Regions from separate parts of the Homo sapiens genome. Here region 2 is linked to region 1. Evidence: fine-mapped expression QTL. A gene starts in region 1. The other region holds a variant in brackets. All regions are shown on one strand. Distances are between the middles of the regions.

Region 1 (5,369 bases):
CTTTTATTATTTATTATTATTTTCTTTTTGAGACAGAGTCTCGCTCTGTCACCCAGGCTGGAGTGCAATGGCGCAATCTTGCCTCACTGTAACCTCTGCCTCCTGGGTTTAAGCAATTCTCCTGCTCAGCCTCCCGAGTAGCTGGGATCACAGGTGCCCGCCACCACGCCTGGCTAATTCAGTTTGACTGCCGATATCACCTCCTGCAGGATCCTTTCCTGAGTTTGCCGCCTCCTCCCTGGGGTGGAGTTAGATCTGTTGATGTCCCCTGTGCCCAGCAAAAGACCTACCACTAAACAGGGCTTGTGAGTGTTTGTTGAATGAATATAGGAACAAAAGAATGTTTGCGTGAATCAATGAAGGAGAGAGACTGCAATGAAGTGAGGGTCTCCTCAGGCCCATCGGGAGCCCCGACCATACCATCCCTTCTACCCCTCCTGGGAGGAGGGCTCTGGCTGGCTTCTGGCCACACCCCAATGCTTGGTTGCTGCCAGGCCTGGAAGGCATTTCCCAGAGCTCAGCACATTCCTGCCTTCCCCGGTGGCTGAGAGTGGGCAGGGGGCATTTCAGAGAGAAGGGAGGGAGGCCCCCAGCATTCCGGGATCCTGCCATCCTGGCCTGGTCCCCCACGCCCTCTGAAGTAGGCCCCAACCCTCTGGTGTGAGATGGGGGACAGGTCTGCAGAGGGGCCACCCAGGCTGGTGTGAGGGGCGAGGGTGCCGACAGAGGCCAGGGCTTGGTGTCTGTGCCTGGCTGGACAATGGGGCAGAAGCTGCTGACATGCGCTTTGGGGGTAATCCCCCAGCCTCAGCCCAGCCCAGGCCTGGGGCCTGGGTTCAGAGAGCGACGAGCTTCCGAGGCAGCAGCCGGGTGGGTTCAAGTGGCATGTGGGGGTACCTGTGCTCCCTGTGCCGCCCCCCGGGGTCTGGTGAGTCAGGGCAGGCTGGGGGCTGGACCAGGGTCCAGGGGTTGGGGGTGAGGCCTGGTAGCTTTGGCTTGGGAGTCGGGCAGGTCTGGGTTCAACTCTGGACCCCTGCCAATGACCTGCTATGGTGATATTGGGAGAGTCACTTACCTTCTCTGAGCCTTCTGGTCTGCAAAGTGGAAGGGGCAGAAGAGTGTAGCAGGGTTTTTGTGGTCCAGGAGAACAGGGGTTGGACCTCAGCTTCACCACCTCCTGGCCACATAGCTATAAATTGGGCATAGCTGGACGCGGTGGCTCACGCCTGTAATCCCAGAACTTTGGGAGGCCGAAGTGGGAAGATCGCTTGAGCCCAGGAGTTCGAGACCAGCCTGGGCAACATGGTGAAACTTTGCCATTACAAAAAATACAAAAATTAGCTGGGCATGATGATGCATACCTGTGGTCCCAGCTATTTGAGGGGGCTCAGTCGGGAGGATTGCTTGAGCCCAGGAGGTGGAGGCTGCAGTGAGCCATGATCACACCACTGCACTCCAGCCTGGGCAACAGAGTGAGACCTTGTCTCAAAAAAAAGGGTGGGGAGCATAAGGAGCCCATTTTACACCCTTGATTCAAAAGCAGGGCTTCAGCACTGAGCATGGTACTTAGTATGTGATAGGTGTCCCCCTAAACAGTAACTCCATTAGACAGAGAACTGGGGGTCCCCTGTGCCCAGCCTTACTGAAAAGGGGCCAAAACCCCCCAGCAAGATGAGCCAGCCACCTAATTTGTGTGAAAAATAATACCAAATACTTATTAGTAACCCTCATTATGTGCCCGGCATTGTCTTACATTTTCAGTCTCTTTTAACTCGTTTAATCTTCACCACAGCCCCATAAGGTGGGTACTCTTACTATCCGCAAAGAGAAGCTGTGACTGGCAGCAGGTCACCCAGCGAGGAAGTGGTCGCGCTGCGATTTGAACCCAAGTTGACAGGGAGAGGGAGTGAAAGGAGTTTACAGTAGAGGCAGTTGGCCAGGCCCGGGTCCTGGAGCCAGGAAACAGTGGGGCTGGGGTGGGGTCCTGATTCTCCAAGTCGAGGAAGCCAACGTGCAAATCCTTGAAGCTGAGCTCATGGCAGAGATCTCGGCCCAGGCAAGAGAGAGGCGGCTGGTGGCTGTCCCGTGGCCCCCACCCCTTGGGGATAGATGTAGCTGGAGGAGGGGGATGTTTGTTTCTCCACCACCCACCCTCTGGTGACGTCACACCCCCGCAGCCAATGGCTGGGGTCTCTCTCTCCTCCCCCCTCCCCATTCCTTTTCCCCCCCAGCCTAGGGCTAGGGCTGACAGACGGGACCAGGAGCTCTCGAGGTGTCTGGAGGCTCAGCGGTAAGAGATCAGCCGGCCGGTCCCTTCCCTGGCCAGGCTGAGACACTGTGGGAATGAGGTTCAGGGTCCCGGGAGGTGCTGGGAGGGGGCCTGGGGGCTCAGGAAGCCGTGTGGTGTAGGTGTTAAAGGTATAGACTTTGGAGCTGGTGGTTCAAATCCCCTTTCCTCTCCTTTCTGGCTGTGCAGCCTTGGGCAAGATACTTCATCCTTTGTGCCTCTGTTTCCCCATCTCTAAAATGGGCTGATGTCTGGAGGCCACCTCACAGGGCTGGTGCCGAGTAAATGAGTTGCTGCTTTTAAAGAGCTAGGGCAGCCAGGCATGGTGGCTCATGCCTATAATCCCAGCACTTTGGGAGGCTGAGGCGGCAGGACTGCTTAAGCCCAGGAGTTCGAGACCAGCCTGGGCCACATAGAGAGGCCCCCATCTCTACAAAACAAAAAAAAATTTTTTTTAATTAGCTGGGCATGGTGGTGCATGCCTGTGGTTCCAGCTACTCTGGAGGCTGAGATGGGAGATTGGGTTGGGCCCAGGAGGTTGGGGCTGCAGTGAGCCGTGATCACACCTCTGCACTCCAGTCTCAGTGACAGAGGGAGACCCTGTCTCCAAAAAACAAACTAACAAACACCAGAGCTGGGGCAGGAGGCCTGGGGTGGGTCCCTGGAGTAGGGTGCTAGGGAGGCAGCATGGATCCTGTTGGGAGGCTGGTGCCTGAGCTGGGTTTTGTCTCTCAGCCAAAGCTCCCCTTTGGTAGCAGAGAAAGTGGGGGCCACTGAGGAGCAAAGGTTGGATGTGCAACACTGTGAGAAGCACAGCTCCCTCCCTCCATACTCTCCCTGTTGCTGTCAGAGACGAGTTTATATTAATCAAGCATTTACTATACAGGAGGGATATTCTAAGCACCTGCTGTTCTCTCACAAATCTTCAAAGCCTTTCTTATTGGCTCCATTTTACAGATGGAGAAACTGAGGCCCCAGAGATGAAGGATCTTGCCCAAGTCCTCACACCTGGGAAGTGCTGGAGCAGGGACTAACCGAGGCAGCCAGAGGCCACTGCCTTAACTCCCCCTGACCCCCTAGGTGGCCTCAGATAATGTTTAGAGGTCTGGATGAGTCAGCCCAACCCCTGACCCCCATTGCTATGAGAGATCACGCTGGTGGCGGGGGAAAGCTGAGGCTCTGAGCAGGCAGGGTTCCCAAGTGAAGTTGGTGGCAGTCACCAGGGAAAGAGGGCCAGAAGGGCAATGCCCTCAGCCGATCCCTCAGCAGCCTCCGAATGACAACCCCTCGCTCCCAGCTGCTCTGAAGGGCATAAGTCGCATCTGAAATGGATATCTCAGTTGTACCCACTCCAGGGAGATGTTACAAAGATTTAAGGAGCCAAGACAGGAAGGATCTTAGCACACAGTAGGTGCTCAAGAAATGGGGACCCTGGGGATTCTGAAAGTTCTGGCATATGCCAGGGTCATGCCACAGTAACTACCCAAGAAATAGGCTGCTGGCATCTGGAGTGTCTGCCTGGTCCCAGTGGATCTGCCTCTAACACAAGGCAGGGACCCTCCCCAGGAGCCTCCCCACCCCTCTTTCCCCTGCCTAGTGGGATAGGCAGAGCTGGGAACACAGAGTCCTCTCTGTGGGTTTCCTTCCGAAGCTGCCCCCACCTTACCCCAGGGGCTGGGTACGTGGCTCAGGAAGAGCACAGTTGGGCTAAATATAACCTGGGCTGGGTGCCTGTCCAGGCAGGGACGAAGAAGGAGGGCACTCTCTCTTGTCCCTGCCCCGCCTGAACTTCCTGTGCCAGGCTCCGGGCATGACCCTCACAGCCACGGGCCTGGGACAGAGAGCTGATGACCCAGGAGACCCCCTCTACTACCACCTACAAGGTTCAGGCTTCTCGTGTCCCCAGCTCAGGACTCTGTGCTGTGTATCAGTCCTGGGTAAGGGAACTGAGTTCGCTTTCACACCTGGGCTCAAGTCTCGACTCTGTCACTGTGATCACCGGTCTCTTAACTCTCATTGACTCATCAGTTAAATGGGGTCCCACAAGGTCAAGTATGTAAAGCGCCTGCCCGGTCCAGGCCCGGCACCTGGCCTGGGTGTGTTTCTAGCACCGTTGGCCCCCTCCTGCCCAACCCAGCTCCTGCCCCAGTGCGCAGAGCCACCAATGCAAATTAAGGTGAAGCAGGGGTGAAGGGCAGGCACGGGTCCTAGCTCTGCCCCTTTCTGGCTGGGTGACCCCTCTGTGAGCCTCAGTTTCCACCCCATAACAGCCACAACATCTAGGGTGATTTTGAGGCCTGTGGGTGCTAGCACAGGGCCCAATTCAGAGGAAATGCCCCAGACATGGCAGACAAGGTCTTAGTGCAGGGACCAGCTAATATTAATACTAACCACTCAATACCCATCAGTTGTTATTATGATTGTCCAGCTAAAGCGCTGGAGCTTTTTTTATTTTTATTTTTATTTTTTTGAGATGGAGTCTCGCTCTATCGCACAGGCTGGAGTGCAGTGGTGCATTCTCAGCTCACCACAACCTCCGCTTCCCAGGCTGAAGCGATTCTCCTGCCTCAGCCTCCCGAGTAGCTGGGATTACAGGCGCGCGCTGCCACGCCTGGCTAATTTTAGTATTTTTAGTAGAAACGGGGTTTCACCATATTGGCCAGACTGGTCTCGAACCCCTGACCTCGTGATCCACCCACCTCGGCCTCCTAAAGTGTTGGGATTACAGGCCTAAGCCACGCGCCCAGCCCGTGCTGGAGTTTTTAGACAAGTTCAAGTCCTGGCACAGCCTGGAAGGTGTAGGGGGCTCACAGGGGATCCCAGGGAAGGCCACAGAGACCAGGACCCCCTAGGAGATGCAGAGAGAAGCCCTCTTACACTGTGGGGGGCGTGGGTGCTGTGGGAGTGTTAAGGGGTCCCCATGTCCTCTCTCCTGGCCACTGATGGGCTATGAAAGGCCATTGTGTGGCCAGGGTGGGTGGGCAGGGGCGGAATGCAACTGAGCACAGCAGACGGGCCATTGTGTGAGGGAATGTGCCGCGTGAGGCCTGACCTTTCCCTGTGCAATAGGGGTTGGCGGGTT
Region 2 (5,369 bases), 44 kb after region 1:
TTAAGTTTTGATGAAAATCAGTTATTCCAAAGCTCCAGGTTTCCTGAACGTTTGCAATCTGCTGTTGCTTCTACCCTCCACTGAGCTAGCTTCTACTCATTCTTAGGTCTAGGCTGACATGTTGCCTCCTTCAGGAAGCCTCCCATGACTACCCAGCCTGCACCAGGCATTCCTCTGGGCTCTCACAGTCCCTTGGGATTCCCTCCTCATTCTTTCTGGTGACAAACTGGTCTTCCCATTGGGCTGGGAGGACAGGCACTAGGGATGTCTCAGTCACAGCTATATCTACAGCATCTCCCTGCATAATTGCTGAGATTAAAGGTTAGGGGAACTATCTGTTGAGGAAATGAATTCATGAGTTATTGTCCTGTCTTATCTTCACCTCATTGCCCAAGCTGTTTCCTGTTCCATCTTGCGCTAATTCCTCCCTATCCTTCAGGGATCAGATTAGTTATACCTCCTTTGGGAAACCCTCCAATGCCCCAGGTTGGGGTCTCTGAGCTTCCACAGCCCTCTGTTCCCTCCATCCTGGCCCTGACCCTCTGCCTGTGTCTCCCCAACCCCGGCCCTGACCCCTCTGGGCTGTCACTGTCAGGTGACAGGCCAGTCTGCATTGGGCTGGGAGTTCCATGAGGTCCATCTGTTACCACCATGTTCCCAACATTACCCAGGATAGGGCTGGACTTAGAGCAGGCACACAGAGATGTACAATGAAGATCAAATGGGTGCGCAGGTTCTTGAATGCCATGTAGAGGGGCTGGTAGCTGCAATTGGGGATCAGAGGGAGCCCCAGGCTTCCAGGAGCAGGGGGAGGGCAGTAGAGGGCTCCATTTAGGGATTCTTTGTTTTGTAACAGGGTCTCACTCTGTCACTCAGGCTGGAGTGCAGTGGCATGAATACAACCCACTGTAGCCTCAAACTCCTGGGCTCAAGTGATCCTCCCACCTCAGTCTCCCAAGGAGCTGGGACCAGAGGTGTGTGCCACCACACCGGGCTTATTTTTTTTTTTTTGGTAGAGATGGGGTCTCACTATGTTGCCCAGGCTGGTCTCCAACTCCTGGGCTCAAGCAATCCTCCCACCTTGGCCTCCCAAAGTGTTGAGATTATAGGTGTGAGCCACCGTGCATGGCTTGGATTAGGGAGGCCTGGTAGGAGGCAAGAAGGAAGCCATTACAGAGAATGGGTGGAGAGGACTCTGGATTGAGTGAGGGATGCAGTCGGAGGCTGGGTGCCCTGTGGGGCAGGGAGTGGCCTGGAAGGAAGGTAGACAGGGTGCAGACAGACCTGGGTCAGTGAACGCCAGTCCATGTTGGCACTGCCCAGGTAGAAGTGGGTCTGGTCCACCACCCAGAACTTGGTATGCAGGACGCCATGGGTCAGCTTCTGCATGTCCACCATGCGGACCTGGGCACCTGTGACCAGCAGGGGCAGAGATCAGGGGCCAGGCTGGGTACCCCCAGGCCCAGACCAGCCCCAGTTGGGCCCCAGCTCACCGCTCTGCAGCAGAGCCTGCAGGTCCGCCTGTGGCTGGGGCCCGCTGGGCTTGCTCACAGCGATGCGGACGTTCACGCCCTTTGGTGCCAGGGTCTGCAGCTGCCGGAGGACCTCCTCACCCTGCGGGGAGGGGAGAGCTTCTGAGGGGCTGGACCAGCCAGCTCTCCAACCCCACAAGGTAATGCCCGGTGGAGTTATTTTGAGACATGATTAGGAGTAAACAGACTTTACATTAGCCTGCATAGATTAAAGACTTTACAGATTAAAATATTAAAAGACTTCCTTATCTGTTTTAAACATCTTTATCTGCTTTAATAATTAGTTGCCCTGTGATCCCCCTCCAAGTCCTCCTGACCCCTCCTGCCCCTCCAGGGACTTTCTCAAAATTCAGCATCAAGGCAGGGCCTCCAGGCATCTCCCAGTATGGTGGGGGCGAGGCTCAGGCAGGGGGTCCTGGAAGGTATCGGGTGAGGCACGATGATGCCAACAACAGCAACAGTCAAGGATGCCCTGGAACCTACTGTGTGCCAGGCCCTGTTCTAGGCCTCTTCTCAGCGAACTCACTGAATTCTCACAACCCAGTGAGGCTGGTTTAATTATAATCCCCACAGAGAACTCAGTAGTGGAGTGGGATTTTGTTTTTGTTTTTTTGTTTGTTTGTTTGTTGAGACAGGGACTTGCTATGTTGCCCAGGCTGATCTTCAATCCCTGGGCTCAAGCATTCCGCCTGCCTCAGTCTCCCAAGTAGCTAGTACCTCAGGAGTGCACCACCACATCCAGCTATGGAGCAGGATTTGAACCCAGACCATCTGCCTCCTACATCTGTGTTTTAAACCACTTTAGAGGGAGCCAGCAGGGAGTGGGAGCTCATACGGTTTTTTAACATAAAAAAATTTTTTTTTAGAGACAGGGTTTCACTATGTTGCCCAGGCTAGAGTGCAGTGGCATGATCACAGCTCACTGCAGCCTCCAATTCCTAGGCTCAAGTCATTCTCCTGCTTCAGCCTCCCAAGTAGCTGGGACCACAGGTGTGTACCACTATGCCTGGCTTTGGTTTTTAACTTTTGTAATTATTATTATTACTTTTTCTTTTTCTTTTTTTTGAGACAGGGTCTTGCTATGTTGCCTGGGCTGGAGTGTAGTGGCATGATCACGGCTCGCTGCAGCCTCCAACTCCTGGGCTCAAGCCATCCTCCTCCTTCCATCTCCTGAGTATCTGAGACTGCAGGCATGCACCACAACACCCTCCTAATTTTTTTTTATTTTTAGTAGAGATGGTTGAGGGGAGGTGGGGGG[C/T]GGGTCTCACTATGTTGCTCAGGCTAGTCTCGAACTCTTGGGCTCCAGTGATCCTCCTGTCTAGGCCTCCCAAAGTGCTGGGATTACAGGTGTGAATCACCACACTTGGCCATAATTATTTTTTTCAGGCAGTTCTTAAGGAGCCTTGTAATTTTAGTTAAGTTTTAAGACAACTTCTCACAAAAAGAGCCAGTAGGGAGAAGAAAACAGAAGGAACAAATTCATGGTTTTTCAATGGAAGAGGTTATCCATGTAGGCTGTTCCTTTTCAAATTGTGAAGCTTTTATGTTCTTTAAGTTTGTCTGCAGACCATACCAGGATATATAGTAACAGCAGACTCACAAAGGCTGACTCTGTGCCAGGCACTGTGCTAAAATTTGCATGGATTAGTCCATTTCATCCTCACAAGAGCCCTAAGAAGCAGGTGCTATAAATTGGCCCCATTTTACAGATAAAGAAACTGAAGCTGGAGAGAAGAGGTGGCCTGCCTGGGGTCACACAGCTGGGAGGTGGCCCCTGTCTTGAGGCTGGGCTGTTAATTACTCCACTCTTCCCTTTCTTTGTGTGACTGGGTCAGGACAGCTTGTGGGTGAGTGACATCTGCCAGCCTAATAATCCCTTGTAACCAAACCCGCACCCTGACATTCAGAGGCCTACAGATGACCGTGACAAACGCCCCCAGTCCAGAGAGCCACGTGACGACAGCTGCTTGCAAACACCTGTGTCCAATCTGCTGTGTGAGACACACCCCTCTGTCTCCTGGGCTGCAGGAGAAACCCCTTCATTCCCCACAGCCCCCGCTGCCTCCCACCCCCTGCCCCTGCTGCCGGCCAGGGCCAAGGTTGCAGGTACCTGCTGGGCAGAGGGCTCCTGCGTGTGGGTGTCATTGTTGGTGAGGGTCCAGTAGAAGGAGGCGATGTCCAGGCTGCTGTGCGCACCGGCGAGCAGGCCCAGCCAGGCCTGGCTGGTGGAAGGGTTCCCCGTGGAGGCATTGGGGAAGTCCAGGCCCTCAGGAATGCTTTCCACCAGCACTGCTCTGGGGGGTGGGGGATGCTATCAGCCATACGGTGCCGGAGAGCAAGGGCTGGGAGGTGAGTGCTCAGCTGTCCGTCCATGGGTGTGTTGGATAGACTGTATTTTTTTTTTTTTAGAGACAGAGTCTTGCCCTGTCCCCCAGGCTGGAAGCGCAGTGGCGCCATCTCAGCTCACTGCAGCCTCGAACCCCTGGGCTCAAGCGATCCTCCCGCCTCAACCTCTTGAGTAGCTGGGACTACAGGTGTGCACCAGTATGCCTGGTTACTTTTTTTACTTTTAGTAGAGATGGAGCCGCACTACATTGCCCAGGCTGGTCTGGAACTCCTGGGCTCAAGCAATCCTCCCGCCTCAGCCCCGCAAAGTGTTGCAATTACAGGCGTGAGCCACCAAGCCCAGCTAAACTGTATTTGAGTTTTTCTTTTCTTTTAAAAAAAATTTTTTAAAACTGTGTGTATTTGAATGCGTGCCTGGACTCATGATCCTCTGCGTGTCTGTCTAGAGGTGTGGAAGGAAGGTCGTGTATTGAGATGTGTGTGTGGGTCCACAGATGTGGGTGGAAGATGCTGTGTCTGTTCACAGGCCTGACAGAAGATGACGCTGTGGCTGCCATAGAAACTATGTGTGTGGAGGAGGAGGGGGCGGGCGAGCACTTGGGAGCCTGCAACCTCCTCACTTGTCGCAAGCGCTGGGTAGGGCTGAGTGCAGGCCCTGTTTAGTGTGTGCTTAAGTGTACCTGGTCTGGCAGGCCCCTCCCCCACCAACTGCAGCACCCCCCACTTACTCGCAAGGGTCATAGCAGGGGGCTGGGCGCTGGTTGGGCCCAAAGAGATGCAAGTCGCCGTATTCCCATAGAAACAGCTGAGTCATCAGGGCTCCGAAGCCCACAACCGCCAGAATGAGGACCAGCAGGACCCAGCGGGCTTTCTGTGGGGAGGAGGAGGTGGTCAGCCAGCCCGAGGGGGGCAGCCCAGCCTGTCTCTGAGACAGAGCGAGGGTGGCGGAGGGCTCCTACCTTTTCCGCAGCCTTCCACGCCTCAATCTCATTCATGGGCAGCTCATTGGCGGGCTCCTCTGCAGGCACCTTCAGCTGGGGATGGGGACAACAACGGGGGTGACAGGTGGCTCTTGGGAACCCCCACCCCCACTGTACCCAGTTCCACCCTGCTGAGCCCCCCAATCCACCTACCTCCTGGTACATCAGTTTAGGCTTCATCTTCCCTCAAGGCTGGGGGATACGCAGAGCCCAGGTGAGAAGGTGGGTGTGTCAGGGTCTCCAAACTGGCAGAACAAAAGTGGGCACTGTGTGGGGTGTTCTACGCTTTCCAGGGACAGACATCACAGAAGAGTGATTAGTCTTGGGGCTATTCATAATCATGGGGGCCACTGGCACACTGCCCACCACCCCAAAAAGAGGAAGCTGGTCACTGGTCAGCAGGATTTCGAAATCCCTCAAAATCCAACGCTCTGCTGCCTGCTCTTCACTCTGCAGTGCCCACCCTGCCCCCATCAGCACCCACGCAGCTCCCCTCTAGCAGCCCCCTTCT

Alleles and levels. Positions count from the first base shown, and alleles are read on the strand shown. Sizes are in standard deviations (SD) of each study's normalised expression.
In carriers of allele C in region 2, the expression in NK cells of the gene that starts at base 2,250 in region 1 tends to be lower than with T alone (large effect, 1.5 SD a copy in Schmiedel 2018).

The links. PIP is the estimated chance that this variant, and not a neighbour inherited with it, causes the effect. A credible set is the group of variants that fine-mapping cannot tell apart.
Region 2: its variant is the best candidate, but not a certain one, in a credible set for the expression of PRX in NK cells (Schmiedel 2018, PIP 0.57).

The regions. Positions count from the first base shown.
Region 1 is chr19:40,410,259-40,415,627 of GRCh38, reverse strand. PRX (periaxin) reads left to right here and starts at 2,250. Exons shown (of 7, transcript NM_181882.3): 1 at 2,250-2,290. RefSeq lists enhancers at 792-1,440, 4,957-5,369.
Region 2 is chr19:40,366,153-40,371,521 of GRCh38, reverse strand. It overlaps PLD3 (phospholipase D family member 3), which reads right to left. Exons shown (of 13, transcript NM_012268.4): 3 at 5,012-5,103; 4 at 4,838-4,912; 5 at 4,607-4,749; 6 at 3,643-3,826; 7 at 1,494-1,614; 8 at 1,285-1,412. The coding sequence starts at 5,038. It overlaps MIR6796 (microRNA 6796), which reads right to left and starts at 1,676; the gene lies at 1,615-1,676. RefSeq lists a silencer at 3,411-3,576. The variant C/T (reference allele first, on the strand shown) is at 2,791.